2 linked regions of the Homo sapiens genome follow. The protein of the gene in region 1 purifies or fractionates together with the protein of each later gene. This does not show direct contact. Each region holds a gene or a part of one and is shown in the gene's direction. Other genes may lie near its edges.

What was found.
Region 2: the proteins of RAD1 (region 1) and RFC4 purify together in Homo sapiens (affinity purification with mass spectrometry; 3 studies listed by BioGRID and IntAct, with this or other methods). This does not show direct contact.

What each region holds. Positions count from the first base shown.
Region 1 is NC_000005.10:34,909,375-34,925,764, reverse strand, and holds the start of RAD1 (cell cycle checkpoint protein RAD1), read left to right. Parts: upstream 1-10,260; 5' UTR 10,261-10,349; intron 10,350-10,803; 5' UTR 10,804-10,872; coding exon 10,873-11,070; intron 11,071-12,186; coding exon 12,187-12,295; intron 12,296-13,952; coding exon 13,953-14,211; intron 14,212-16,390. Other genes in the region: BRIX1 (ribosome biogenesis protein BRX1 homolog), read right to left, coding at 270-539, 790-918, 2,531-2,632, 2,714-2,764, 2,997-3,070, 3,177-3,226, 3,478-3,548, 5,882-5,925 and 2 more. UniProt on the Homo sapiens protein: Component of the 9-1-1 cell-cycle checkpoint response complex that plays a major role in DNA repair. The 9-1-1 complex is recruited to DNA lesion upon damage by the RAD17-replication factor C (RFC) clamp loader complex.
Region 2 is NC_000003.12:186,799,061-186,811,560, reverse strand, and holds the start of RFC4 (replication factor C subunit 4), read left to right. Parts: upstream 1-5,078; 5' UTR 5,079-5,271; intron 5,272-6,836; 5' UTR 6,837-6,847; coding exon 6,848-6,978; intron 6,979-10,365; coding exon 10,366-10,444; intron 10,445-12,500. UniProt on the Homo sapiens protein: Subunit of the replication factor C (RFC) complex which acts during elongation of primed DNA templates by DNA polymerases delta and epsilon, and is necessary for ATP-dependent loading of proliferating cell nuclear antigen (PCNA) onto primed DNA.

The sequences.
Region 1 (16,390 bases):
CCAAAAATTCCAACCCAAGAGAACAGGCTACATTAAGTGTGCTACATTTTTAGCAACACAAACTTCAAAAAGAAATCAGAAATTAACTGATGAATTCTGGTGATATTTTATTTAGAAAAAGATAATCACTGATTTTAAGATCTTAATTTTTCTTTCTTGTAAATGCTACACTAATTAGACGTAAGATAGTATTAGATAATAAAAGTATTTACACATTGAATACAAAATAAATATAAAGTAACTGAAAAACAAATCAGGTTTCCATTGACTTATTTTGTTTTCCCACTGTCCATCCTCTGTTTCATTTTTCTTTGCCTTTTGTAAATCCGTTTCTTTCTTGCTTTCAAATCAACTTTTGGCTCTGGTTTTACCCACTGTATTTCTATTGGTTTCTCCTCAGCTGGTGTTACAAAAACATCTGCAGTGGGATCATGTGGAAGAAGAGTCTTCGGCTCTTTCTTTCTCAGTTTTTGCACATCTTTCACTTGCTGTTTCTCTCTGTATTTTGCAGCTGTGATGGATCTTATGACACGCCGATGCTAAAAAAAAAAAAAAAAGATTAGATGCTTTTGAAATAAAAATAAACATTTTATATAAGGCAAAGACTTTCAGTTATGAACCATATATCCTTTCAGCCAGTGTCATGAAAAAAGGGAGTAATTTCCAAGTTTCTATGCAGCAAAAACCAAATTCAGTTTCACAGGTAATAAAACAGCAATTACTTCACAGAATCATTTTGGCCAAAGGGTTCTGGTACATTGAAGACTACTGAATGACACAACCGCTTACCATGTTTGGTGACTGGTAGTGAGGATTTTCATATAAAGTTGGTCCTCCAAAACTTCCCTGGAAAATCTTTATGAGATTTAAGACAAAACGAGGTCCTATTTCTACAAGAGCAGCATCTTCTTCTATGATCTTTAATAAAAAGGAAACATTTCATTTTGGTTTGGTTACGTTATTCCCAAAAGGTATACTGGCTATAACCTCATTATAAATGTGCCTGAAATAATTGATAATCCATAAAATCAAGGTGGGGGTGAAACTTGGTAAATGGCAAATCATCAATATTTTCTGAAATCTATTAGTACTTATAGGAAGTTGTCATGGAAAAATGTTTTTTCAGTGAGTTCTTTTAAAATTGAGTAATTAGATTTTGGTTCACATCTTGCTTGTCACAATGCATATATCCTTGAAAAACTGGTTAAACAGGATTTTAAAACAGTAACCACTATTAACAAAATGTATTAAAGCACATTATGGGGGAACTCTTGAAACTTAAATCAATCCCTAAATTGTTTTTATAAATCTAATTCAAGTTAGATTAAAAGGATATGTAGTCAAATTTATTTAATAGCTACTGATTATGGAATTAAAAGGCAACTTCCGAACAACAAATATTTATGTTATCTATTAGTTCAGGCATGTCTACCCTCAGAGGTTAGGATGATGTGTTCAACTCACATGCCAGGTATCCAATATAAAATATGCAGAAAAGAGCTCAGTTTATGTCATATACTGTCTAAAATTTTGTTCTTGCTGTTCTCTTCCACCTCTTCATCTTTCTGCACTTATCGTGCCAAACTCCTGCTTCAAGATTTCTAGAGTCACCTCCTCTTTTCTCCTGAATGAGTCACTGTGTGACTCATCATCTAACCGCTGCCATTGAATGCCTTCTAGAGCAATTACATTTTGCTAGGTCTTAACCTTTGAGGTGCTTTGAGAGAGAAACTTCTAAGCTTTGAGAGAGAAACTTCTATTTTACTGTATCCTTTACAGCACTTTCTACAAATTAGGAACCCAAGTATCTCATGGATCTTCAAGTTATTCCCTTTCTATAAAGTTAAATATATAATGGCTTATTAGGAAATCCATACTCTGTATCAACTAACAGTCATGAATAGAAGTAGGTAGAGCTCACTTAAGATATAAGACAGTACATAGTTACTTGCAGCAATCTCTTTAGGGAAAAGGAAGCTATTTAAAACAAAAGAATTATTTGCATTTTTTGTGTATGCAAACCCTGTATATCCTTATCTAAAAGTTTAACTAAAAATTGACCAGGCACAGTGGCTCACAACTGCAATCCCACCTACTCAAGATGCTGAGGAGGAATGATTTGAGGCCAGGAGGTTCAAGGCCAACCTAGGCAACACTGCGACACTCTATCTCTAAAAAAAAAAATTAGGCCGGGTGTAGTGGCTCACGCCTGGAATCCCAGCACTTTGGGAGGCCAAGGCGGGCAGATGGCCTGAGGTCAGGAGTTTGAGACCAGCCTGGCCAACATGGCGAAACCCCGTCTCTACTAAAACTACAAAAATTAGCCAGGCGTGATGATGGGTGCTTGTAATCCCAGCTACTCAGGAGACTGAGGGAGCAGAAGCTTGAACCCGGGAGGTGGAGGTTGCAGTGAGCCAAGATTGTGCCACTGCAGTCCAGCCTGGGCAACAAGAGCGAGACTCTGTCTCAAAACATAAATAAATAAACTCAATTAAAAAAAAGGTATAATTAAAAATCAAGTAAAGCTTACCTGAAAGTTCCGAAACCATATCCTATTATCCAAAATGGTGAAAGTAAACACGTGGTCCACAAATGGTTGGCTTTTGGGATGATACCGTGGTGTACTAAAGATCTAGTTAAAAAAGTGTATGTTAGTTCCTTATTCCAAGATATATCATGTATATTTTGGATAGCTAATTTTAAAGATATTTACCTGAATTAAGAGTTCTTTTAACAAAGCATAATGTGGTAATTCATCAAAAGCCTATAAAAATAAGGTAAGCATATTATTTAACAGTAGACTGCCTTGTTTAAAACTGTTTGCTCATTTGTTTCTATAACTTGGCTATAACCTCATTATAAATGTACCTGAAAGAATTGATAATCCATAAAACCAAGGTGGGGGTGAAACTAAATTGAATAACACAACTATATCTACTAAAAACAACCATGCCAGATAAGAAAATTAGACCTCATACACTGAATGAGAAACTTACAGGGTCAAAAGACAAAAGGGGCCGAGAACCTTTCAAACAGTTTCCAGTCATCTTCAGTTCAGCGAGGGTATGAACTAGAAAAATTACAACAAAAACAAAAATAGTTGTAACTTTTGCACAACTATTTCAAAAGATTACTTTTAATTTCCTCATCTAAAAAAATTTATTGAGTCAACTTACTATTTTGAACAAGGAATTTAGCAGATGGTCCGTGAGGTGAATTTGAAAGCCTGAAAGATATGGAGTAAGCTTTTTCAACTAATTAGCAAATGTAGTCAATGCTTACCACCTATTCACCATAAATAATATGCTTATAATATTTATACATTTAATTTTCTTTAAAGGTATCAAGTTTCGTGAAATCAAAAGTTTGCTTCATTCTCAACCCTTAACATGAAACACTAGGAGTCTATAACATAAAAGGTACAAAGAACAAATCCACTTAAATGAGTTTAACCAAAATCTTAATACATTCTCTTACCACATATAGAGATCCTGTTTTTTCTTAGCTTCAAAATAGATGCATTTATTACAGTTCTTCATTTCACAAACCTAAAGGAAGCAAAGTATAGGAAAATGAAGTAGATAATATAAATGAGAACTAAAGTAATTATATGTGATTAATATCATCCAGATTATCTCAAAAATACCTAACCAGGCTAATAGGCTACAAAGGCCTAAACATGTATTTATTCACAGAAGGAACCTTTAAAGTTCCTCTTAGGTATTCTACCCAAGGTAAACTAGATGCTCTGCCCATATCTTGGGTGAAATTATCTATCATATTTTTGGGCCTAGCATCTAAAATGGTCTCACTTCTGATTACTGGAAACCTCCCTCCTTTTTTTTTTTTTTTTTTTTGCGATGCAGTTTCGCTCTTGTTGCCCAGGCTGGAGTGCAATGGCACGATCTCGGCTCGCCGCAACCTCCACCTCCCAGGTTCAAATGATTCTCCTGCTTCAGCCTCCGGAGTAGCCGGGATATTACAGGCCTGTGCCATCACACCCCGCTAATTTTGTATTTTTAGTAGAGATGGGGTTTCTCCATGTTGGTCTGGCTGGTCTTGAACTCCCAACCTCAGGTGATCTGCCTGCCTCAGCCTCCCAAAGTGGTGGGATTACAGGTGTGAGCCACCTCACCTGGCCAGGAACCTCTTCTGCCCATAGTCCCATTGACAAACTACAAAGACTAAAAATAGATGCCCTACGGATAAAGCATACCACAACTAATCTTCTTATGTTAATCCTTCATAATCAATCTTCTTAGCCAATCTTATGAAAATGCAGTACTTATAGAACTAAAAACATCCTTTTTAATGATTATTTTGATTTTTAACTTTTTAGCTTTTTGATTCTAAGATCACAAAACTTAAGTTGTTCTTCATTTATACTATCATTTCTGGTGATTTGGTTCTATAAAATCACTAAGGGATTGGGTGAAAAGCCTAAGTATATCAAACCTATTTCAAATTAAACTTCAATGTCTTGAAGGCTTACAAAAGTCACACTTGAGAAGACACAAAAACATTACAGGAGTGAAGGCTTGTATTACTGTAGTATTCATAAACTCTAATTAATATAGTACTCTTAAACTCCACATTATTTAAGACTTTAAACCTAACAACTTATGGCTGGATGAGGTGGCTCATGCCTATAACCCCAGCACTTTGGGAGGCCGAGGTAGGTGAATTGTCTGAGCAACCTGGCAAAGCTCCATCTCTACTAAAAATACAAAAAATTAGCTGGGCATACTGGCGTGTGCCTGTCGTCCCAGCTACTCGGGAGGCTGAGGCAGGAGAATTGCTTAAACCCAGGAAGCAGAGGCTGCAGTGAGCTGAGATCATACCACTTCACTCCAGCCTGGGTAACAGAGAGAGACTTTTGTCTCCAAAACCAGTTAAACAAATAAACAAACCCTAACAACTTAAAAAAAAAAAACAAAACTTTTGTTTCTTACTGGTCTTAGAATAAACACAAAAATAGGAAGTTTGTGCCACTTCTGGGCTTTTGTAGTTGCCATTTTCTCTAGCTAGATGGTCTTTTACCATATTTCTCCTTCACTACGTCTCTGCTCAAATATTAAACACCATCCCTTTGAACAGGTTTTTCCGGTGTAGCCTCAGCTGTCCAAAACCTATAACCTGCTTTATTTCTCCTGTCTTTACTTGAAATTATAAACCTTGTTTATGGCCTGTCTCCATTAGAATGTAAGTTCCATAATGACAGGGACATTGCTCTGTTGAACAGTTTCTACAGCACATAGAATAATGTGGTATTACAGCAGAGGTTCAAAAATTTGTGCTCTAAAGAAGGCTAATAGTGAAAAAATGATCCTAATTCTTCTAAGTTTTGAAAATTTTGCTTTAAAATGTAAATTTATGTTCTGTGCTTCCAGAGGTTAAAAAAAATACCTAAGTGTAGTATCTTAAACAATACTTTGAAAATGTAACCTATTCAGTTTGTAATACCTTAATAGCCAGTTCCACACAAATCACTTTTAATACTGGCAAAACACTTTTTACCATGTGGGTTTTATATATATATATGTTTAATGGACTTATTTTACTTTATATATGTTGACTGATAATTTTTTGAGTACCTACTATGGATTTAGCATAATACTAGACACTACAGGGTTAAAAAATGGGACATAATCCTTCTCCTGAGGAAATTTCAATATGCTTGTTCAGACAAAACAAACAGAAATGAATGAAGCACTAAACTGTGAGAGATAAAAATTTGGAAGACCAGTTATTGAAGAGTTAATAAAATGTGTCTGAATAGTTTTTACAAAATAATTTTTAAAGTCACTGAATGACTTAGTTTTGAAATAAGCCACTGTTAACATTTTAAAAATATTTTGTTGCAATTACTTTCCAAAATTACCTCGTTAATCACAAATAGCTTATCCTTACGATCCATTTTAGTATCTAGAAAAAGAAAAAAAAGAAAAAGCAAGTAAATTAAAGGTGATTTCAAAGTTATTTCAATCAAACCACATATGCTATCCAGAAAATAAAGTGTTTTTACACTCTTCAGTTTAAAGGAGATTTTATTACTAATTTTCAAAACAAGAGCTGGAAACAATCGCTCAAAAATCTTGACTCTTTGTAAATGTAAAGAAAATAAGTAAAATATAGTCTGTAAGAATTAGAAATTATAGTGTAAGCAGTGTTTCTCAATATTTAGGTATTCTAGGAATCCTTTTCAAAAATGGGAAAATTCTCACAAACCAAAGACTGTGTTAAAGGAAACCAGTTTCAATGAAAATATCTTTCACTTTTTAATCTTAGGTGTCAAAGAAAACTGACTTTATGCCCGTGTAACAAACCTGCACATATACTCCTTGAATCTAAAATAAGTTAAAATTTTAAAAATAAAAAACAAAAAACAAAAAAACCCCAAAGCACCTCTCAACATAAGCACAACAACAGCCATATGATGGCGCTGCCACTCCACTGTTCCAAACTTTTTTTTTTTTTTTTTTTTTTTTTTGAGACAGGGTCTTGCTCCTTGCCCAGGCTGAAATGTAGTGGCGCAATCACGGCTCATGACAGCCTTGAACTCCTGGGCTCAAGCCATCCTCCTGCTTGAGACTCCTGAGTAGCTGGGACTGCAGGCAAGTGACCCCCTCACTTGGCTAATTTACTTTACTTTTTTCATTTTTTTTTTTTTTTATTTTGTAGAGACAGGGTTTCACCATGTTGCCCAGGATGGTCTGGAACTCCTGGACTCAAGTGTTCCACCCACCTCGGCCTCCCAAAGTGCTGGGATTACAGGCATGAGCTACCATGCCCGGCCATACTGTTCTTGCCTGTAAAATAACCCACTGCTTAAAAATAAATAAATAACCTGGCATTTAGAAATAGGCTCTGACTCCAACTTAAAAAGTGCTTTGAATTCTATCCCAGGTCCATTTTTCAATAAAAACAGTTAAAAAAAAAAAAAAAAAGGCCCAAAAAGCAACATGTGGCAGTCCTTAGCACTTAGGACAAACCATCCCACCTATCTCAGGACCTTCAGAAGCATTACAGTGAAGGCATTCCTGGACCTTCAAGAAATGTTTCAATAATATTAGGACACCTGTTTTAAAAAGTAAAGAATCTACCTAATGAAATCTAAAGAATTTCTTACGAAATGTTAACTGGAAAAATTGTGGCACTTGAAAGGATAAAAGGCATTGTGTTTTTTTCGTGAGAACACTGAACAAATGAAGAATATATAAAATAAGTGAAAACATAAAAATAGGTAAGTTTATAGATAGAAATTTCTAAAGTATATGATATAAAGGCACCTGCTTTAGAATGAGGCATCAACATTCTCAAGTCCTGCATTAAATGTCTTGTTCTAAAATTTATTCCTCTGGAAGAAAAGATGAGAATCCGTTCCTTATTTTTCCACTTTCCCTAAAGAAAAAGAAAATGTTAAAAGATTTTAAAATCTTATACTGAACTGATCTTGTTTTGTGACAGGGTCTCACACTGTTGCCCAGGCTGAAGTGCTCACGGCTCACTGCAGTTTCAAGTTCCTGGGCTCAAGTAAGTGATCCTCCCACCCCAGCATCTACAGTAGCTGGAGACTACAGGCATGTGCCACCATGTCCAGCTAGTTTTTTTTTTTTTTTTTTTTGTAGAGATGGGAGTCTCCCTATGTTGCCCAGGCTGGTCTCCAACACCTGGGCTCAAGTGGCTTGGCCTCCCAAAGCGCTGGGATTATAGGTAAGAACCACCGCACCTGGCCCTGTTTGTTTTTTATGAGCTTCCAAGTAGCTCATAACCAAGTCAAACCATCCTGACTCCTTTAATTTCATCTCTCACCAACATTCACTGACCACATCTGCCACCCAGAAATGCCCTCCTTGGTTTCTTTGTTTTTCAACTTCAATCTCTCCAATTCCTCCTTCCAACCCTAAAAGTTCTTTCTTAGCCCTCTTATTTCTGTGCTCTCCATGACAGATGTCTCATAATAATTTCCCACAACTCTTAATCCTTTCTTATTCACACTGCACTTACTTAGAGTCTTATATTAACTGCAAAACTCCTAAATGGCTAACCTTCCCAGACATGAGCACCTCCAATAGATATGGTTGACTAGCTTTTTCAACAGTTTACTTTTTTTGTTTGTTTGTTTGAGATGGAGTCTCACTCTGTCACCCAGGCTGGAGTGCAGTGGCGCGATCTCGGCTCACTGCAACCTCCACCTCCCGGGTTCAAGCGATTCTCCTGCCTCAGACTCCCGAGTAGCTGGGATTACAGGTGCCCGCCACTGCACCTGGCTGATTTTTTTTTTTTTGTAGTGTTAGTAGAGACGGGGTTTCACCATCTTGGCCAGGCTGGTCTTGAACTCCTGACCTAGTGATCCACCCGCCTCGGCCTCCCAAAGTGCTGGGATTACAGGCGTGAGCCACCACGCTGGACCATTTTTAAAGTAATACTTCCATCACATCCTTACTTCCCAGAGTTTTCTAAACAAAGTTCAAATGACATAGCTTTGACACTGAATTTTAAAATAGATTTTCACGTCTACATCATTATTGCCCCAAATGAAGCCTAATGCAATCCAATCTGGCTCTATTTTTTACATTTTTCAGCATTTCCCTACTTCAAAGTCTTTCATCGGTTTTTTTTTCTCCCTTGGAGTGTTCCCTCTCATTTTTTGAATGTCAAAATTCTACACTTCCTCTGATATGCAGCTTACGGGCTAAATCCTTCATGATTCTTTATCTTATTATACTAGGGTAAAAATAATCTATATCTCCTGCACTTCCATAGAATGTATCGAAGTATGGCTCAGATTATAGATACTACCTAGCTCAAGGGAAGAGTGAGAACACTAACATTTACTGGAAGTGTACAAGTCCAGCTTATTTTTCATAAAAAGTAAATATTCCCTCCCCCTGCCCCCCAATCTGCAGGTCAGAAAAGAGCACAGAATGTTGCTGTTAATAACGGGGCTAGAATTTACACTTATCTTTCATTCCACAGAGCTCACTTCTTTCTTAGAGCTTGCCATCACACCACACGGGGTCATTTACTTATCACCTACTCCGCGCTAGAGTACTATGCTAAGTGCGGAGGACGCAAAAATTAATGTCAAAGATAATCCTTGTTCACAGTATTCTGTCTAGCTTAAGAAGAGTTCTTAGTTGAATGAAAGCTAATTCTAACAACTTGTGTGCACTTCTTTTGAATAAAAACCATCAACTTATTTGAATTCTTAAGTTTCCTCCTAAACTCCAACATTTCAGGAGGAAGAGGTCACATTCTAGTCATCTTTGCAATCTCAAACCCAAAGGAAGCCTAACTTGGTACAGTGCATGGCACATTCAATGTCTGTTGAATACAAGTAAAGCTCATACTACCTAGTCTATTTTTCAGTATCTCTTGAGTTAATGACCTGGTTAACAAGTCAGAGTCACAGTCCCAAGGGCAACAACTTTTTAAAGGCTCCCCTAACGTACTTCAGGATCCCTGACTGAGAGTGGCTGACTATGGCAGTATATGGGCATACTAATCACTGGAGAAATAATAGCGAGAAATAACCAAGGAAAAGCACTACTCTCCAAAAACATTAAAAAAAAAAAACAACTGAACAACTAGTAAGAAAGAACGCTGGATCTGAGCACCCTGTAAGTCGCTTCCCCGTGGGCCGGGTAAAGGTTTTAAAACCCGCCGCCTCCAGGAAGACGGCCACGTGCACAAGGATTAGCTGCAAACTCCGTGCCCAGTCTGGCCGGGAGAATTGCTAAAACCGACCTACCGTTAACACCCGGGCTACTCTGAAATTAAGCAAGGCTGTAGTCAAGTAAGTAACCCAAGAAAAGGCGCACAGAGCCGCCGCCGCAGGTGTAGCCCGGGGACATCCCCTCCTACCTTGCAAACGGGGCCTGGGATCCGGTCCCTCTCTTCTTCCTCCACCTCCTCTGCTGTGGCGTGCCGCTTAGCTGGCGGCTCCGCATCTATTTCGTTTCTTTTTGGCTTCTTCGCCTGAACTGCAAAGCCTCCACGCCGTTTCCTCTTGGTTGCCGCCATCTTGCCTCGCCGCCCGCGCTCTTGGCCTCCTTTCCGGCGCTGCCGCTCGCTCCTATTTCCGATCTCTATGGTTCGGCGGCTCTAAGCGCTCAGCTCCGCGGTCGTCCTCCAGGTCTGTGCCGCCTCCTTCCGGTCTCGGTGGCGCGGCACGCGCGGCTCTCTAGGCCTCCTTCAGCTCTGTGGTGACGGTGGCCGAGGTGGAGGGCCGGTCTGAAGAGTGGCGGGACTGGCTTCACTTCCTCCGCGGTTCCTCGGAGCCGCCTCGCTCCTCTTCAGGGACTTTGCTGAGAAGGGCTCTCGGGCGTCCAGACCCCACCGCAAAGGTAGGGTTTCCGCACTCGGGGACCCCGAGACTAGTAAGCGATGCTGTCCCGCGGGCGGGCTGGTGAATGGGGTTGTCTGGGACTCTTGGAGGATTATCTGGACACTCCGGGCCCGCCCCGCCATCGCCTGTTTTGTTGGAGGCGGGGCTGGTGGCGCGGGCTGCACAAAACCGACTCCCCGCGGATTTGTAGCTCCTGTTTGGCCGGGAGATACCGTGTCAGTTGCGTGTCTTCATTCTTCACAACTTTTCACGTTATTGTCCTCTTACGGAGACGAGGAAACCGTAGCTTAGATAATTTTCCTCCAGAATTACAAAGATAGTTAAGTGACATAGGTGGGGTTCGGCCTGGTCAGCCGTGTTCAGCCTCCCAGCCCCTTTCCACCTCTCAGCGCAGGTGGAGCTCGCCGGACCTCGCCAGCACTGATGGGAGTTTTACTGTCTAATCCCTTCAGGTGTTTGGCGATCCGCCGAGAAGTTGTTGGCCCCAGGAGCATCCCTCGGGGCCGAATGCGCAGTGGACGATGCCCCTTCTGACCCAACAGATCCAAGACGAGGATGATCAGTACAGCCTTGTGGCCAGCCTTGACAACGTTAGGAATCTCTCCACTATCTTGAAAGCTATTCATTTCCGAGAACATGCCACGTGTTTCGCAACTAAAAATGGTATCAAAGTAACAGTGGAAAATGCAAAGTGTGTGCAAGCAAATGCTTTTATTCAGGTATGGAAGTAGGCGCCTTTAAGCCTGTGCCATAGATACTCTAAATGTAATTTAATGAAATCGGAAGGTTTCAGTAGACAAAATAACTTAATAGTCATAATAACTTGTCAATAGTCATAATAAATAACTTAATAAATAAATAATAGTCTTAAGTTAGAGAACAAAACGTCATTACTTGAATTTTTTTTCTCTCCCGGTAACAAATTCTTTTCCCATCTTGTTTTACAGAGATAATGGTTAGTAATGACTAAAGTTTATTAAACTAGGCTATTGGCTAGGCTACAGTCTTCTTATTGTTTAACTTATTTAATCTTAACAATAGTCCTGTAAGGTAGGTTCTGTTATTATTCCCGTTTTATATATGTGGAAACGAGGCACAATTTTAAGTGATTTGCCAACAGTCCCACAGCTGGTAAGTGGCTGAATTGGGATAAGAACGCTGAATATTTGTTTCCAGAATATATGCTCTTTTTTCCACTGCGATATGCTATTACTAAAGAGTATTTTTTTCCTTTACTGGTTGTAATAGAATTTTTGTTCTTCCAAAGTAATATTTGTGTGGTTCAGATAGGATTGCAAGTTCAACTAAGCGTTTTTTAACACGTAAGTGCACAGCATGATCTCAGGGATAGAGAGGTAAATAAGACACGGTTCTTGTCCTCATGCAGGGGCATGGTATGGTGGCTCACACCTGTATTTCCAGCTGCTCAGGAGACCGAGGCTGAAGCACGAAGATCGCTTGAGCTCAGGCATTAAAGACCAGCCTGGGTAATCATAGTGAGACCCCCGTATCAATAAAAAATCATAATAAAAGTTGAAACTAATGTTGCTCATGCATTATCAAGTCATTCGTCTATTTTCCAAGTGACCTTAGCAGTAGTGATAGGCACAAAAACGAGACAAGGGAGAGTCACAGAGGGATAGTTTTAGATCCAGGAATGGAGATAAGGATGCTTCAAAGGATGTCTCTAAGATGTTTTGATTGCTAATCAGAAATTATTCTCATGGGATTAGCACAGTATTGTATTTTTTAAACGTATAAAGTGAAATCTAGGACCTTATATTATTAGTTTTTATTCTTTTATGTAACAATTTTCATTTTTACTCTTTTCATAGGCTGGAATATTTCAGGAGTTTAAAGTTCAGGAAGAGTCTGTTACTTTTCGAATTAATTTAACTGTCCTTTTAGACTGTTTATCTATTTTTGGATCAAGTCCTATGCCAGGTAAACTATGATCAGTATAAAGACATAAAAGTGTTATACATAGTGGTCAGAAAAATACAGGAAGTTATTTGGAACATAAACATTGGTTCAGAAAGCTAATGCCAATTCATTTTTCAGTGGCCACAGTCATGGGTTCTAACATTTCACAATGTTAATTGCAAGTGTGTTTATAATTCTTTTCATATTTGTAAAAGTATTTGCATTTTTTTTTTAATTTACAAGGCTTTGAGGGATTGTAAATTCGAACTGGCCAAAAGAATACTTTGGACATGTCTTAAATATTTTTAGCATTGTGAAATGTTTTAATTGCTTCTTTTTCCTAACTTGTCCAGAATTACTCCGCTAGTTAGTGGCAGAGAAAAACAAAAGCCAGTTCTGACTCCTAGTTTACTATGTTCAAAATTTGTTTCTTTTAAGCCATATTTTATAAGTTATGTCTATTTTGCCAAATGATTTTGTGGTGTTTTTGAGACAGAGTTTCTCTCTTGTTGCCCAAGCTGCAGTACAATGGCACAGTCTCAGCTCACTGCAACCTCTGCCTCCCGGGTTCAAGTGATTCTTCTGCCTCAGCCTCCCGAGTAGCTGGGATTACAGGCACGTGCCACCACGCCCGGCTAATTTTTTGTATTTTTAGTAGAGATGGGGTTTCACCATATTAGCCAGGCTGGTCTCAAACTCCTGACCTCAGGTGATCTGCCCGCCTCAGTCTCTCTAAGTTCTGGGATTACAGGCATAAGCCACCGCAACCGGTTGCCGAATGATTTTCTTTAAAATATATATTTTTTTATTTGTTAAGGGAATTTTTAAGAATGGTGAAATTGAATTGCTGTGGGTATAAAACTAAGGAATCCCCAGAAGAATGATTTTATTTCATAGGAAAGCAACCTGGAGATTAGCTAGGAAAAATTCAATATAGTTCTCCAGAAAAATGTATTTTACGTTTCCACAGACAATTCCACTATTATTAATTATACATTTTCTAATACAGTGTTCTCCAGCTAGTTTTTCACAGAAGCATCTGTCATCTTCCATTCCTCACTGTGGCTCTCAATCCAGTAAGGAGAAGGAGTTTGAATATCCTGTCATATTCCTCCTTCCCTCTAGTGGTTTGCAGAGTTAAAATTTACACCACCATTAACAACCCTCTTTTTCTCTCAATTTGATTTTTAAATTCGAGGAAATATAAAGAATATCTCCCAGTTGGAAAAGTTGGAAGGATCCTTGTCATAGTGAGTACACTGACGTTACAGTACAGATGACAGCAATCCACTGTTACACACATTGAACCTTCAAGGAATAGCATACCCTGTTCTGCAGCAATTTAGTTACTTGCTGTGTTGATCCATATAGATTCTCTACCCTGAAATTGTACATATATAAAATCAACAAGCTATTTCTGAGGTGTGTATGACAACCTGAAAATGATTCCAAAGAATTATGTTACATTTTGTTCTGGTTCCCAATTTTCTTGTAGTTTTGGAATTCTCTACACACAACTGTCATCAGGGAAGATGTCATCCCTTTTTATGAGGAGATACATATATGTGAGAAATTGGGCGGAATAAATTATTCTTGAGAAATTTTATGTATCATTTCGAGGAGAAGCTGAACCCAGAACTATAAAGCTAAGGCCAAGTATGACTTCTTTCCATTGCAGGGACTTTAACTGCACTTCGAATGTGTTACCAAGGTTATGGTTACCCTTTGATGCTGTTCCTGGAAGAAGGAGGAGTGGTGACAGTCTGCAAAATCAATACACAGGAACCTGAGGAGACCCTGGACTTTGATTTCTGCAGCACCAATGTTATTAATAAAATTATTCTGCAGTCAGAGGGGCTCCGTGAAGCATTTTCTGAATTGGATATGACGAGTGAAGTCCTACAAATTACCATGTCTCCTGACAAGCCTTATTTCAGGTACTTGAGAGCAGTGCAGTTATAGTTAATGTGGTCTGTACTCCATCTTCCCACTTAGACATTTGCTTAGGATGCAAAATTTTTATTATCCACATTTTTAGAGTTTTCACAACTTTAGACAGCTTGTACTCTTACCTCATAATTTTATGGATCAAGAAACTTAAGACCCAGGAAGATTAACTCACTATTTCATATTTAGGTGGTGGTGGCATCTAGATGAGAAGCCCAGTCCTCTAATTTATAAACTGGTGGTGTTTTCATTGTACTACTCCTTACTTTCATAGATCAGGTTACATCATGAGGAAAATTGGGTTTAAGTGTTTGGAAAGGGTGTTTGTATTATGGTATCTTTTTCAAGTTAGTTCAGGATGCAGAAGAAGATGTTTTCTACACGTGGCTCATTCATTCACTAAGTATCTGTTGATCACCTACCGTGTGCTTATTCATCTTATTAAGCATTGTGGGAAGAACAGCTTAAAACCAAGGTGAAGCCAAGAAAATGTGAAACAGCAAACCATTAAGTACCAAGATAGCACACACAGATACCTGGGAAATGCTGTATAAGGATTTAGGGAGGATTGCTCAAGGCTGGCTTCCCAAGGGAGGGCAGTTTTCAGCAGGAGTACAATGTCAAAAAAGCTGTTCTTGATAGTTTAACACAAGTCTCTTTTCAGGATTAGACTCAGAGATTCTAGCAATTTAGAGAGAGGATCTAAATATTCTCTTTTTGAAATATTTCAGAATATTAAAGCCCCTAAATACATATGGAATAAAAGGAATAAGGTATTCTTTTTGTAACTACTTTAGAAGAATTACAGGCCCGGCTGTAAAAGTGCTGTGGCAGACACCTGTAATCCCAGCACTTTGGGAGGCCGAAGTGGGCAGATCACTTGAGGTCAGGAGTTCAAGACCAGCCTGGCCAATGTGGTGAAACCCTGTCTCTACTAAAAATAGAAAAATTAGTTGGGCGTGGTGGCACGTGCCTATAATCCCAGCTACTTGGGAGGCTGAGGTGGGAGAATCACTTGAACCCAGGAAGTGGAGGTTGCGGTGAGCTGAGATTGCGCCACTGCACTCCAGCCTGGGTGACAGAGTGAGAATCTGTCTCAAAAAAAAAAAAAGAAAAGAAAAAGAATCACAGGCCCTTGTCATGACTTTGGGGAGTTAAAAATTTGGCTCAAGGTCTGAGAAAGTTAACCAAAATGGAAATTGGAAACCTTACTTTAGCAGTGGAATGAAGTAAAAAATTCAGGTACTTAAAACAGTATTTCAGGGGATCTCCTCAGTGATCTCTCTCAGCCTGGGTAACGAGATGGACCATGGTATCTTTCATCTCCAGGATGGGAAACAATTTGGTGGTAGGGAGGTAGGAGTTGAAATTTTTTCCTGGATATGTTAAATTTTAAGTACCTGCGACACTAGGGAGTGGCTGGATATGTAGTTATGGTGCTCAGGAGATCCATTTAGACTGGAAATTTAGATTTGGGAACCATCATCATGGCTGGGTATGGATGAGACGGGTCAGAGAGAGAGATTATATTAGAAGAAAGAAAAGATGGACCCCAGGAAAACCACACCTGGAAGATGGGAGGCAGAAATGGAGCTTAGGGAAAACCAACCTGGATCTTATCGCCATGCTCATATAATACTTAGCAACGTGCTAATCCTGCAGCAAATGTTCCAGGAGTTCTTGCAAATTAAATCAGCATGTTAACACTTATAAATTGTCTACAAATAACTTCTGGTATTACCAAGTGAGGAAAACCATGCAATAGCCTTAAGAGCAGTCTAAGATACAGAAAAGCTGTAATTCCTAGGTGTAGGATTGGGAACAGACCTAAGGGTTGCAGTAGACTTAGATCAAGGTCTTCCATGAGTCCTCAATTCTCTCGCCTGTTATATATTTCTGACTTAAGGATGAGGAAAAGTCATTTTCAGAGTAGGATTAGGGTAATGAAATTAAAGTGTCCCCTACCCTTTTCCTTTTACAATTGATTTTCTTCAAACCCATTGATTAGTTGTCCTGAACTCCAGTGGGAGCTTTATTATGGTACTTGTTATCGTGTGTTATAAGCATTTGTGTACATGTCTGTTTCACCCACTAGTATGAATTTCTTAAGGAAGTGTTTTCTTTATTTGGATCCTAATGTGGTTTATTTTTGGATGAATGAATAAATGA
Region 2 (12,500 bases), on another chromosome or scaffold:
TGAGGAGCCCCTCTGCCCGGCCAGCCGCCCTGTCCGGGAGGGAGGTTGGGGTGGGGGGGTCAGCCCTCCGCCCGGCCTGCCGCCCCGTCCGGGAGGTGAGGGGCGCCTCTGCCCGGCCACCCCTACTGGGAAGTGAGGAGCCCCTCTGCCCGGCCACCACCCCGTCTGGGAGGTGTGCCCAGCGGCTCATTGAGAACGGGCCATGATGACAGTGGCGGTTTTGTGGAATAGAAAGGGGGAAAAGGTGGGGAAAAGATTGAGAAATCAGATGGTTGCCGTGTCTGTCTAGAAAGAAGTAGACATGGGAGACTTTTCATTTTGTTCTGTACTAAGAAAAATTCTTCTGCCTTGGGATCCTGTTGATCTGTGACCTTACCCCCAACCCTGTGCTCTCTGAAACATGTGCTGTATCCACTCAGGGTTGAATGGATTAAGGGCGGTGCAAGATGTGCTTTGTTAGACAGATGCTTGAAGGCAGCATGCTCGTTAAGAGTCATCACCACTCCCTAATCTCAAGTACCCAGGGACACAAACACTGCGGAAGGCCGCAGGGTCCTCTGCCTAGGAAAACCAGAGACCTTTGTTCACTTGTTTATCTGCTGACCTTCCCTCCACTATTGTCCTATGACCCTGCCAAATCCCCCTCTGCGAGAAACACCCAAGAATGATCAATAAAAAATGAAAAAAAAAAGAAAAAAAAGAAAAGAGATTTCTTTAGCTCACAATTCTGGTAGCTGCAAAGTCCAAGAGCATGGCGCCAGGCTGTTCAGCTTCTGGTGAGGGCCTCATGCTGCCTTATGACATGGAGGAGAAGCAGAAAGGTGAGCAGGCACGTGCTGAGTGAGGGGACCAAGGAGGCTGACCCACTTCATAACAACTTGCTCTCTCAGGAGCTAATCCATTTCCATAAGAACGAATACAATCTCCCAGGAACAAGAACTCACTCACTATCTTGAGAATGACACCAGTCTATTCATGAGGGATCCACCCCAGTGAGCCAAACACCTCACACTAGGCCCCACCTCCACACTGGCAATTAAACTTCAACATGAGTTTGGGCGGGAACAAACCACATCCAAACTGTAGCATCCTCCTAGACTAGCCCTTGGAGGTGGGCTGCCTCCACAAAAGGAATGCAATTTTTGATAAAGTGGTTTTGTTGGCTGAAGACAGTTGCTGGACAGGGACTCATTCAAGAGTTGGCCAGCAACCCTCCCAGCAGCTGGGGGAGTGAGTATCTCAGTCCTGAAAGGTAGCATACCAGAGCATCCACTACACCTGCATTTTCTGATTTTTTTTTCTATTTATTTGTTATTTTTCTAGAGATGGGGTCTCAGCTGTGTTGCCCAGACTGGTCTCAAACTCCTGGGCTCAAGTGATCTTCTCACCTTGGCCTATCAAAGTGCTAGGGTTATAGGCATGAACTACTGCACTCAGCCTGCATTTTCTGATTTCAAAATGACACTATCATCCACTATCTGATCTTTTCCACTCCTGACAGCTCTCTTTTTTCATTTGCTACCCAAGTCTTTTCCTTTCCTAGTGACCTTATAAAATATCATCCAGGCCAGGCACAGTGGCTCACGCCTGTAATCCCAGCACTTTAGGAGGCTGAGGCGGGAGAATCACTTGAGGTCAGGAGTTTGAGACCAGCCTGAACAACGTGGTAAAACCCTGTCTCCACTAAAAATACAAAAGTTAGCCACGTTTGGCAGCATGTGTCTGTAATCAAGTGGCTGAGGCACGAGAATCACTTGAATCCAAAAGGTGGAGGTTGCAGTGACCTGAGTTAGTGCCACCGCACTCCAGCCTAAGCAACAGGGTGAGACTGTGTCTCAAAAAATTTAAAAAAAAACATAATCCAGGGCCAGAGGCAGTGGCTAACACCTGTATTCCCAGCACTTTGGGAGGCTGAGGTGGGAGGATCCCTTGAGCCAAGGAGTTCAAGACTAAACATAGGGAGATCTCGTGCTCTCTCTCTCTCTCTTTCTCTCTCTCTCTCTCTCTCTATATATATATATACACACACACACACACACACACACACACACACACACATCATGCAGGTACAGTTTTGTATCATCTGTTTCAAAGGGCAACGCACTAAATAAAGCTGTACTCAACTTTTGAAAGCCCTCTTTTAAGATTAAAAAACTTCACAGGGTCCAGGCACGGTGGCTCACACCTGTAATCCCAGCACTTTGGGAGGCCAAGGTGGGTGGATGCCGAGGTGGGCAATCACGAGGTCAGGAGTTCGAGACCAGCCTGGCAAACATGGTGAAACCCCATCTCTAAAAAAAAAAATACAAAAATTAGCTGGGTGCAGTGGTGCACACCTGTAGTCCCAGCTACTTGGGAGGCTGAGGCAGGAGAATCACTTGAACCTGGGAAGCGGAGGTTGCAGTGAGCCAAGATTGAGCCATTGCACTCCAGCCTGGGTGACAGAGTGAGACTCCGTCTCAAAAAAGAAAAAACAGAAATAAAACAAAACAAAAAAACTTTACAAATCTCCACATAATAGTATCATAGTAGTAACTGAATGAATGCCCATTACAATAAATAATAAAAGCTATTATAAACTTGTTAAACTGGTTTAATCATGTGAACACCCACATATGTATGACACAAAAAAAGATAAGTATTTATATAAGGACATTTCTTGTTCTGGTGAGAGAGACAATGCTTGGTGTGCACACAAGTTCTTCAACTACCTGGATTAGGATGCTGCCTATAATTGTGTACAATAACGGAGTAGTCAGCTGAGGGGCAAGTGGAGATAGAAATCCAGCCCAATCTCTTATCACCAAGTTTTTCATCCCACCAAGGGCTGAATGTACCTGCAGAAAGGTGGCATTTTTTTAAAATCAATTGCCAAAACAAGATACCACTCAGGTCTCTCTTTTCTATTTAACATTAAGGCACCTCTATGCCAGCCCTGAACCTGCCCAGTGACTGATCACAAGCTTTGAGTCTGGAGTCAGTCCAAGATGTGGATTATGGCTTTGCCACTTACTTGCTATTAACCTTTGTTGTAGTCTGAATGTTTGTCCCCACACCCCCAAATTATAGTTATTGAAATTATAACTCCCAAGGTGATGGTATCAGGAGGTGGGGCCTTTGGGAGGTGACTGGTTCAATAGAGTGGAACCCTCATGAATGGGAGAAATGCCTTCATAAAGGAGATGGCTGGAGAAAACTAGTTAGCCCTTTCCACCAAGTGAGGTTACAGCAGTAAGACAGCTGTCAATGAGGGAGTGAACCCTCACCAGCCACTGAATCTTATGGTGCCTTGATCTTGGACTTCCCAGCCACTAAAACTGTGAGAAATAAATTTATGATGTTTATAAGCCACCCAATCTATGGCTTATAAACATAGCAGCCAAAATGGACAAAGACCACTTATCCATCAGCTTGTCTGTTTTTTTGTTTGTTTGTTTTTGAGACGGAGTCTCGCTCTGTCACCAGGCTGGAATGCAATGGCGTGATCTCAGCTCACTGCAACCTCCACCTACCGTGTTCAAGCGATTCTCCTGCCTCAGCCTCCCAAGTAGGTGGGATTACAGGCACCTGCCATCATACCTGGCTAATTTTTGTATTTTTGTAGAGATGGAGTTTAACCATGTTGGCCAGGCTGGTCTTGAACTCCCGACCTCAGGTGATCCGCCCACCTCGGCCTCCCAAAGTGCTGTGATTACAGGCATGAGCCACCGTGCCCAGCCCAACTTGTCTGTTAAATGAGATCATAACATCCCCCTCTCTGTGGTTGTGCTGTTCCTTCAGGTAGCAAATGGATACCATCTATTTTCATAGATCTTGTTTTATCAACTGTATTGTGGTATAATTTACATACAATAAAATATACAAGCATTAAGTATACAGTTTGATAAGTTATGGTAATGTAAACCGGTGACCAGATAGATAACCTGTGTGTTTTTTATACTGTCCAGAGATTGTATCAGACTCTGTGGAAATTACAAAGTAGCATAAAGCATCCTTACTTTGGTTAAACCCTTGATTGGGTTAGGCCTGGGATGTAAGTTCTCACAGCCCCCTACTTCCTCTGCATAACCACACATCACATTGTCTGTCACTCTCCTAGTCTGTAAAGCTACTTGAGGGCATCTCGAGCGTTTTCCCTGCTGTATCTGCAGGCATCTAACACAGTGCGTGGACATTCTGTAAGCATTTGTTGCAAGATAAATGAAAAAAACGTACAAAGTTAACAATGGATATCATGCTGAGTTTGTGCCAAACAAAACAGTCATTTGAAGAAGACCCGGAACAACCTTATGGGTTAGTAATTAGTAAAGACCAGTAGAGAAGGTGGCCTTTGAGAAGGGTCAGGTTTCAATAGGATTAAGGAGCATTTCAGAGCTAAACCAAGTACTTGGAAGAGATAAAAGCAGTGGGCTCAGGCACCAGCCTAGCCCACTGTGCATGAAGCTTGGTGGGGCTAAACATGATTATCAGTCCTTTAACTTTTATTGAACGCCTTCACTTCCAGATTTCTAAGTGGGGCTCAGGAATTATAATAGATGTCCACAGCTGCATGGTCTTCTCTCTCCACAACACGCAGACACTATTAGAAGTAAAAGCCACGTGTCCTCAAGAGGGCAAGGCAAAGCATCTTCAGATGTCTCTGCCCTTAAAGCACACGCGTTCTGCTCTGCGACGAAGCAGGACAAGGAGGACAGGGACCTGCACCTCCGGAGGCCCGCACCTACGAAGATAGCGGGCTCGGGACCTTCGGTGGACCGGCAGGGTTCCAGAGGCCCGCGCGCCGCCGCCCCGCCCTCATTGCTGAGCCTGCCAGGTAAGCAGCCCCAGCGCCGTGCCCGCGCGACCTCTACTCCTTCCGGGAGGGTCGCGCTCACGTCTGAAGTGGGAGCAATGCACCGGGACAGGGACACCTCCTAGGCCATGCCTGTTCCAGTCCAGTTCTGCCTGAAAGTCCGGCTGGCTCATCACCTGCCTAAATAAAACCGTATACGGGCAAACTCCCTCCGCAAGCAGCGCGCCCCAGCACCGGAAGTGACGCGTTACGTGCCCGCGTATTCCTACCGGCGTATTCCCGCCCTGCTTTTCGCCCGCCGTTCCGTGGCGGGAACTGAGGCGACTGTGGGGACATCAGTGATCGTAAGTCTCCTGGGCCCGTTATTCTCAGATTAGGTGACGGAGCTAAGACTTCGAGACCATCTCGTCCTTTTTGTATCGCGGAAACCTGAGGAACGAGCCGGCGGCGGTGACCTGCACGAGAAGCCAGGCTAACTGGTAACCTGCTGGAGGAACTGCAAGCCCGCTTCGCCTTCCCCACTCCTGCCCTTGATGCCCCTTGTGAGGTCTTCCACCTCCTTCGGGGCCCCAGCCTAGTGGCCCTTTCATGCCCTGGCCGCGCCCTTTGGTGAAATGGTGGTTCCGGACAGCATCTTGCAGGCCCCGGCTTTGGGCTGTATTAATGTTTAACAGCCCGAGGCAGGGATGGACTAATCCAGTAACGTTATAAAAACCTTGGCTGCTAACAGATATTAAAAATTTATTTTATTGAGCATATCCCCATATGCCAAGCAAGGAACTATGTATTTGCATACATTCTTTTATTTAACTCAGTTGTCCTGTGGAATAGGCCTTAGCTCCTTTAACAGAAAAGGAAACCGGGTATCATAGATGGTAATTCATTCACCAAATATTACGGAGCATCTACCATGTACCAGGCACTGTTCTAGGCACCAGGGCATGTAGCAGTGAAAAAAATAGAATTAACCGGGGACTTTTCAGGCGAGCTAATGATGCTTTTTATCCCTGAAAACAGCCTGGAAGAATGTTTACCTGCATGTTAGAAATAGTTACCTTCTGGGTGGGATTTTGTATTACTTTTTTAAATCTCTCATGCTTTTATGCATTGTTTTGATTTCTTCAAGTGAGTGTGTTATGAGAAAAACAGCTGTTTCTATTTTAACAACAGAGTCCCCCACCTTCCCTTCCCCACAGAAAGTCTCTGAAGGTAGGTAAGCATTGACTCTGCCATGAAAATAGGTCCCTGGCCAGGCGAGATGGCTCACACCTGTAATCCCAGCACTTTGGGAGGCCGGGGCAGGAGGATTACTTGAGCCCAGGAGTTCCAGACCAGCCTAGGCAACATGGTGAAACCCTGTCTCTACCAAAAATTTAAAAAATTAGCCGGGGGTGGTGGCACGCACCTGTAGTCCTAGCTACTGGGGAGGCTGAAGTGGGAAGATGACAGGAGCCTGGGATGTCAAGGCTGCAGTGAACCATGATTCCGCCACTGCACTCCATCCTAGGCAAAAGAGTGAGACCCTGTCTCAAAAACAACAACAACAAAAAAAGGTCTTTGAGTTCTGACCCAAGGAAAGGAGTGAAGGTTCTCATTTGTGGTGCAAGCAGAGCACCTTTAATTGCCGAAGAGTCCATTTCAGGGTCTGAGCTAGAGCTAGGCCCATGACTGTGAAAGAAACCATGGAGGCCCATGTGGTTTGGTCATTAGCAACATCATATTTATCAATGCATTTGGAACTCATTAAACATTTTTGTGACATATGATCTTTGTTCTATAACTCCTGCACTAGAAATAGATTCTAAGTTCGTTAGGGACTTTGACCACTTTTCTGTTCTTGTAGCCCTCAGTACAGTGCATTCAGAGTGTCCTAGGTCATGGGGTGATGTCCTTTATTATGTAACATCTTTGCACAAGGCTAAGTTTATTTTCGGGCTGTACTTTCTCATAATGGTTCCCCACCACCACCCCCGCTTTCCTATGGTGCTGATTCGCAATAAAAGTTTCAATAAAAGCTTTTTTTTTCTGTCTTGCACCTGACCAGGGTGAAGTACCATGCAAGCATTTCTTAAAGGTACATCCATCAGTACTAAACCCCCGCTGACCAAGGATCGAGGAGTAGCTGCCAGTGCGGGAAGTAGCGGAGAGAACAAGAAAGCCAAACCCGTTCCCTGGGTGGAAAAATAGTAAGAACACTTGTGTCTTTGTTAAAATAATTCATAAATTATCTCTCTAACCAGTACTGATCACTTTTTTTTTTTTTTAACTTATGGAGGAATGCTTTGTTCTGTTTAGAAGTTGTCTTTGAAAAAAAATCACCCACTTATATAAGTCATAGAACCCTGGAACTAAAGTTACCTGAGAATAATCTAGTTTAACTCCCTTATTTTGTAGATAAACTGAGATCTCTACAAGCAGAGGCTTCCATTTTAGGGGCTGGGATACAGAAGTGAAGAAAACAAAAGTTTCTGTAAACTGGCTATAAATACTAGGTCAGGAGTTCTACTTAAATCCAAATATGTAATCTGTTCCTCCTTCTTCTCATTACAATAGGTGGAAAGTATTATTATTATTATTACTATTTTTGAGACGGAGTCTCACTCTGTTGCCCAGGCTGGCGTGCAGTGGCATGGTCTCGACTCACTGCAACCTCCACCTCCTGGGTTCAGGTGATTATCCTGCCTCAGCCTCCCAAATAGTAGGGATTACAGGTGCCCACCACCACACCTGGCTAATTTTTTGTATTTTTAGTAGAGACGGGGTTTCACCATGTTGGTCAGGTCGATCGCAAACTCCTGACCTCAAGTGATCCACCTGCCTTGGCTTCCCAAAGTGCTGGGATTACATGCATGAGCCACCGCGCCCAGCCCTGGAAATTCAGTTTTGGTTAGCTCATACATTTTTGTCCAAACAACACTTGAATTAGCATTTAAATTGTCAGTCACCACCTGGCATGGTGGCTCATGCCTATAATCCTGTATGTAATCCCAGCAATTTGGGAGGCCAAGGTGGGAGGATCACTTGAGGCCAGGAGTTCCAGACCAGCCTGGCCAACATGTCGAAACCCCCTCTTTACTGGGAAAAAAAAAAAAAAAAAATTAGCCAGGCATGTTGGCGGGCACCTGTAATCCCAGCTACTTGGGAGGCTGAGGCACGAGAATCACTTGAACCTGGGAGGCAGAAATTGCAGTGAGCTGAGATCACACCACTGCATTCCAGCCTGGGTGACAGAACGAGACTCTGTCTCAAATAAATAAATAAAATTGTCAGTCATCTAAGTGATATTACCACAAGTAATTGTAACTATTGGTTGAATGTAGCCTCGGTAATTACCAATGTTTACAGATTACTTATAGGCCGAGTAAGGCCCTCATATGTTTTTTGTGTTTTTGTTTTTTGCTTGCCTTTTTGTTTGTTTGTTTTTTTGGGACAGATTCTCACTTTGTCACCCAGGCTGGAGTGCAGTGGCGCAATGTCAGCTCACTGCAACCTCTGCCTCCCAGGTTCAAGTGATTCTCCTGCCTCAGCCTCCCGAGTAGCTGGGATTACAGACATGCCCCACCACACTCAGCTAATTTTTGTATTTTTAATAGAGACAAGGTTTCATCGTGTTGACCAGGCTGGTCTTCAACTCCTGATCTCAGGTGATCTGCCTGCCTTGGCCTCCCAAAGTGCTGGGATTACAGGCGTGAGTCACTGCGCCCAGCCCCTTATATGTTTTGTTTGGCACCAATAAACCTCATGAAAATCTAGATTTTTTTAATTATGTGGAGGAGGGTCTGGATTTTCAGCTTCTCAGGAGATCAGGCAACACTGGGGGCAGGTTCTCACATGACAGGAGTTATATGGACTTGTGTACTGCTTCTCCTTTTGGAAAGGTCGTGTGTTCCTCAATTTGCCATGGTCCCTACTATATCTTGCATCACACTCTGCCTTCCTCACTCTTGTTATCTGCTTAATCTCTGCAGGTATTTGAATATGAGTCCCTGCTTTATAACATATACTGGATTCCCAAGAGAAGACATTAAAAAAAAAAATCATAATTCCTACCTAGTGTTAACCTGATTTATCGAAAAGTATGGATCAAAGAACTTTTGATTAGTTAACTAAGCACAAAGCCTAAGCTTAGAGTTGGAAGTGTAACTTTGTTCTAGCTTCTCTTAAAAATCACTGTTGTAAGATGAAAATTATATATGATACTTCATATTGGTTCAGCTTGTTGTTTTTGTTAGCCCTCAATGAATTGAATAGGTCTTCATTTTTTTATGCAGTTAGATGATGGAAAAAATTGGCATTAACCAGTTAACACATACTAAGTATATATGTAACTACATTAACCAAAATAGTTACCTATACTAAGGTTACTAAATGGTTTTCCCTTTTCATCTTAAGATTCATGATCTTATTTTGTCAAAGTGGAACAATGCTTTTTTTTTTTCTTTTGAGACAGAGTCTTGCTCTGTCGCCCAGGCTGAAGTGCAGTGGTGCGATCTTGGCTCACTGCAACTTCTGCCTCCTGGGTTCAAATGGGACTACAGGCATGTGCCACCACGCCCACCTAATTTTTTTTGTATTTTTAATACAGACGGGGTTTCACCATGTTGACCAGGCTGGTCTCAAACTCCTGATCTCAGGTGATCTGCCTCCCAAAGTGCTGGGATTACAGGCGTGAGCCACCGCATCCGGCCAATAATAATGCTTTCTAAGCAGGTGTTCACTTTAATTTTTTTTTTTTTTTTTTTTTTGAGATAAAGTTTCGCTCTTGTGACCCAGGTTGGAGTGCAATGATACGATCTCGGCTCACCACAACCTCTGCCTCCAGGGTTCAAGCGCTTCTCCTTCCTCAGCCTCCCGAGTAGCTGGCATTACAGGCATGCACCACCATGCCCGGCTAATTTTATATTTTTAGTAGAGACAGTGTTTCTCCGTGTTGGTCAGGCTGGTCTTGAACTCCTGACCTCAGGTGATCCACCTGCTTCAGCCTCCCTAAGTGTTGGGATTAGTGTGAGCCATCGCACCCAGCCCCACTTTAATTTCTTTTTTTTTTTTTTTTTTTTTGAGACAGAGTCTCCCTCTGTCACCCAGGCTGGAGTGCAGTGGTGCGATCTCAGCTCACTGCAAGCTCTGCCTCCCAGGTTCGTGCCGTTCTCCTGCCTCAGCCTCCCAAGTAGCTGGGACTACAGGCGCTCACCACCACGCCTGGCTAATTTTTTGTGTTTTTAGTAGAGACGGGGTTTCACTGTGTTAGCCAGGATGGTCTTAATCCCCCACTTTAATTTCTAATTAGTGTTTGTAGCATATAAAATAAAATCCTTTTTCTTTAATTTTTGTGGGTATAACAGATTCGAGCAATGCAGAAAGGAAGTAAAACATTATTTCACTCTTTCAGAATGTGTTTGGTTACGGTAAAAACAAGTGGGGTTTCCACCTATTTCCGATTATGAAAAAGTTTCTCATTTCATTGCTGATGTTTAAGAATGGTCATTGGTATTTTAGTAGAAGGAACACTTGAGAGTTTTCTGTGGCTACTATAATATACTAAATAACCTCTTTCCTCCTTCTCACCCCGCAAGTCGCCCAAAATGTGTGGATGAAGTTGCTTTCCAGGAAGAAGTGGTTGCAGTGCTGAAAAAATCTTTAGAAGGAGCAGATGTGAGTTGCAAATGGTGTTTAATGTCATTGGGATATTTAAGACTTAATTTATTCACCCTCTTTCTTCCTTTATAACTTCTAGCCCTCGTTAAATATCTTGCTCTGTGTACAGTAGGTCCTTGATAACTATTTGTACAATGATAATTAGTTCAAATATTTATTGAGCATCTCCTATTTAATCTTACATAGCAGTGTTACCTAGTATTCAAGTAAAAGTCATAGTAATTAAGACAAACTATGAAACATAGACATAGAACAAGACATAAAACATAGAACAAGACAAACTATGCCCCTTTTTTCATGGGTTTTTATTGGTAAGGAAAGATAGAATAAACAAGTAAACCAATAAATAATTATAGGTAGTAATATGTGCTATAAAGAAGAGCCAGAGATTCCTCTAAAGTATAATTGCTTACTAACTTTAGGATTTGGATTGACCTATAATACAAAAAAAAAATCGAGCTTTGAATTCTGCTTATAGCTCTCTCTTCTGCTGTGATCTGGGGGATAAAGTATCCATGGATAACTTGCATTGTAAATTATTCTGAGATAAGATAAACCCATGTGAAAAATTAGCAACTTAAAGTTGTGTTATGATGAATGCCCAAAGTGCTTTAACAGCTCAGTAAAGTGCTGAAGTGGGATGTGGTTTTTGCTTTAGTTTCAAGATTTGCTTCCTTCCTCTCAATCTGGCTGCTTTTAATTAGAAGTTCTTTTGGGTTTTGCTGCCATCATTCCCTTGCTGAAATTATATTACTACAGTACACATTTTGAAAGAAGTTAAATTTATAAAACTATTTAGAATCTTTTTCTTTACCAGTATGTGTTTTGATTTGACTCGCATACTCTTATACCTTTTTGGCCGGCCACAGTGGCTCACGCCTGTAATCCTAGCGTTTCGGGAGGCTGAGATGGGAAGATCACTTGAGGTCAGGAGTTCAAGACCAGCCTGGCCAACATGGTGAAACCCCATCTCTACCAAAAATTAGAAAAAGTAGCCAGGCGTGGTGGCACACACCTGTAGTCCCAGCTACTCAGGAGGCTAAAGCGGGAGAATCATTTGAACCTGGGAGGCGGAGGGGTTGCAGTGAGCCAAGATTGTGCCACTGTACTCCAGCCTGGGTGACAGAGTGAGACTCTGGTCTCAAAAATAAATAAATAAATAAGTAATAAAAAATAAATAACACAAATACTCTTATACCTTTTAATTTTATAATAGTATAGCATTTTATTTTTTGGTATATTCTGCTTGCATATCTTGGTAACAGTATATACCATTTTAATTGCAGTTGCATAGTAATTACACAGATTGCAGGACAATATCTAATTTAATTACTAGTATCTTCAGCAAATGTAGTGAGATTAAGATCCAGTTCTTTTGTTTTTTTGTTTTTTTTTGTAATTGAGACAGAGTCTTGCTCTGTCACGCAGGCTGGAGTGCAGTGGCGTGATACCAGCTCACTGCAACCTCCGCCTCCCAGGCTCAAGTGATCCTCCCACCTCAGCCTCCCAAGTAGCTGGGACTACAGGCATGCACCACCACACACAGCTCATTTTTGTATTTTTAGTAGAGATGGTGTTTAGCCATGTCAAGTGACCTGCCCGCTTTGGCCACCTAAAATGCTGGGATTACAGGCATGAGCCATCATGCCCAGCCTAAGATCTAGTTCTTGACTTTATGCCACGTAATTTATGAGGCTGAAGTAAGAACTTCAGTTTAATATTTTGTGCACCTTTTCAGACTAAGTTTTGTAAAGAGGTGAAATAGTTTTTTTAATTCAAAAGAGTAAAGGAAAACAATTCATTCAATTTATTTTGAAAGGTTTTAAAGAATTATAAGAAGATAATTTTTTCAGAAATTGATTTTAAGAACTGGTATTCCACATACAGTTCTTGAATGTACTACATATATTAGACTAGTGTATAATTAAGGTTTAATAATTTTACCCTGTTTCAAAGAATTTAAATTATTGTATCTGATAGTTAACCTGGATGAATCGTTACATTGTTAAGGGATGCACAGATCAAAATAATAGTTGTAGACCTTAATTACTAA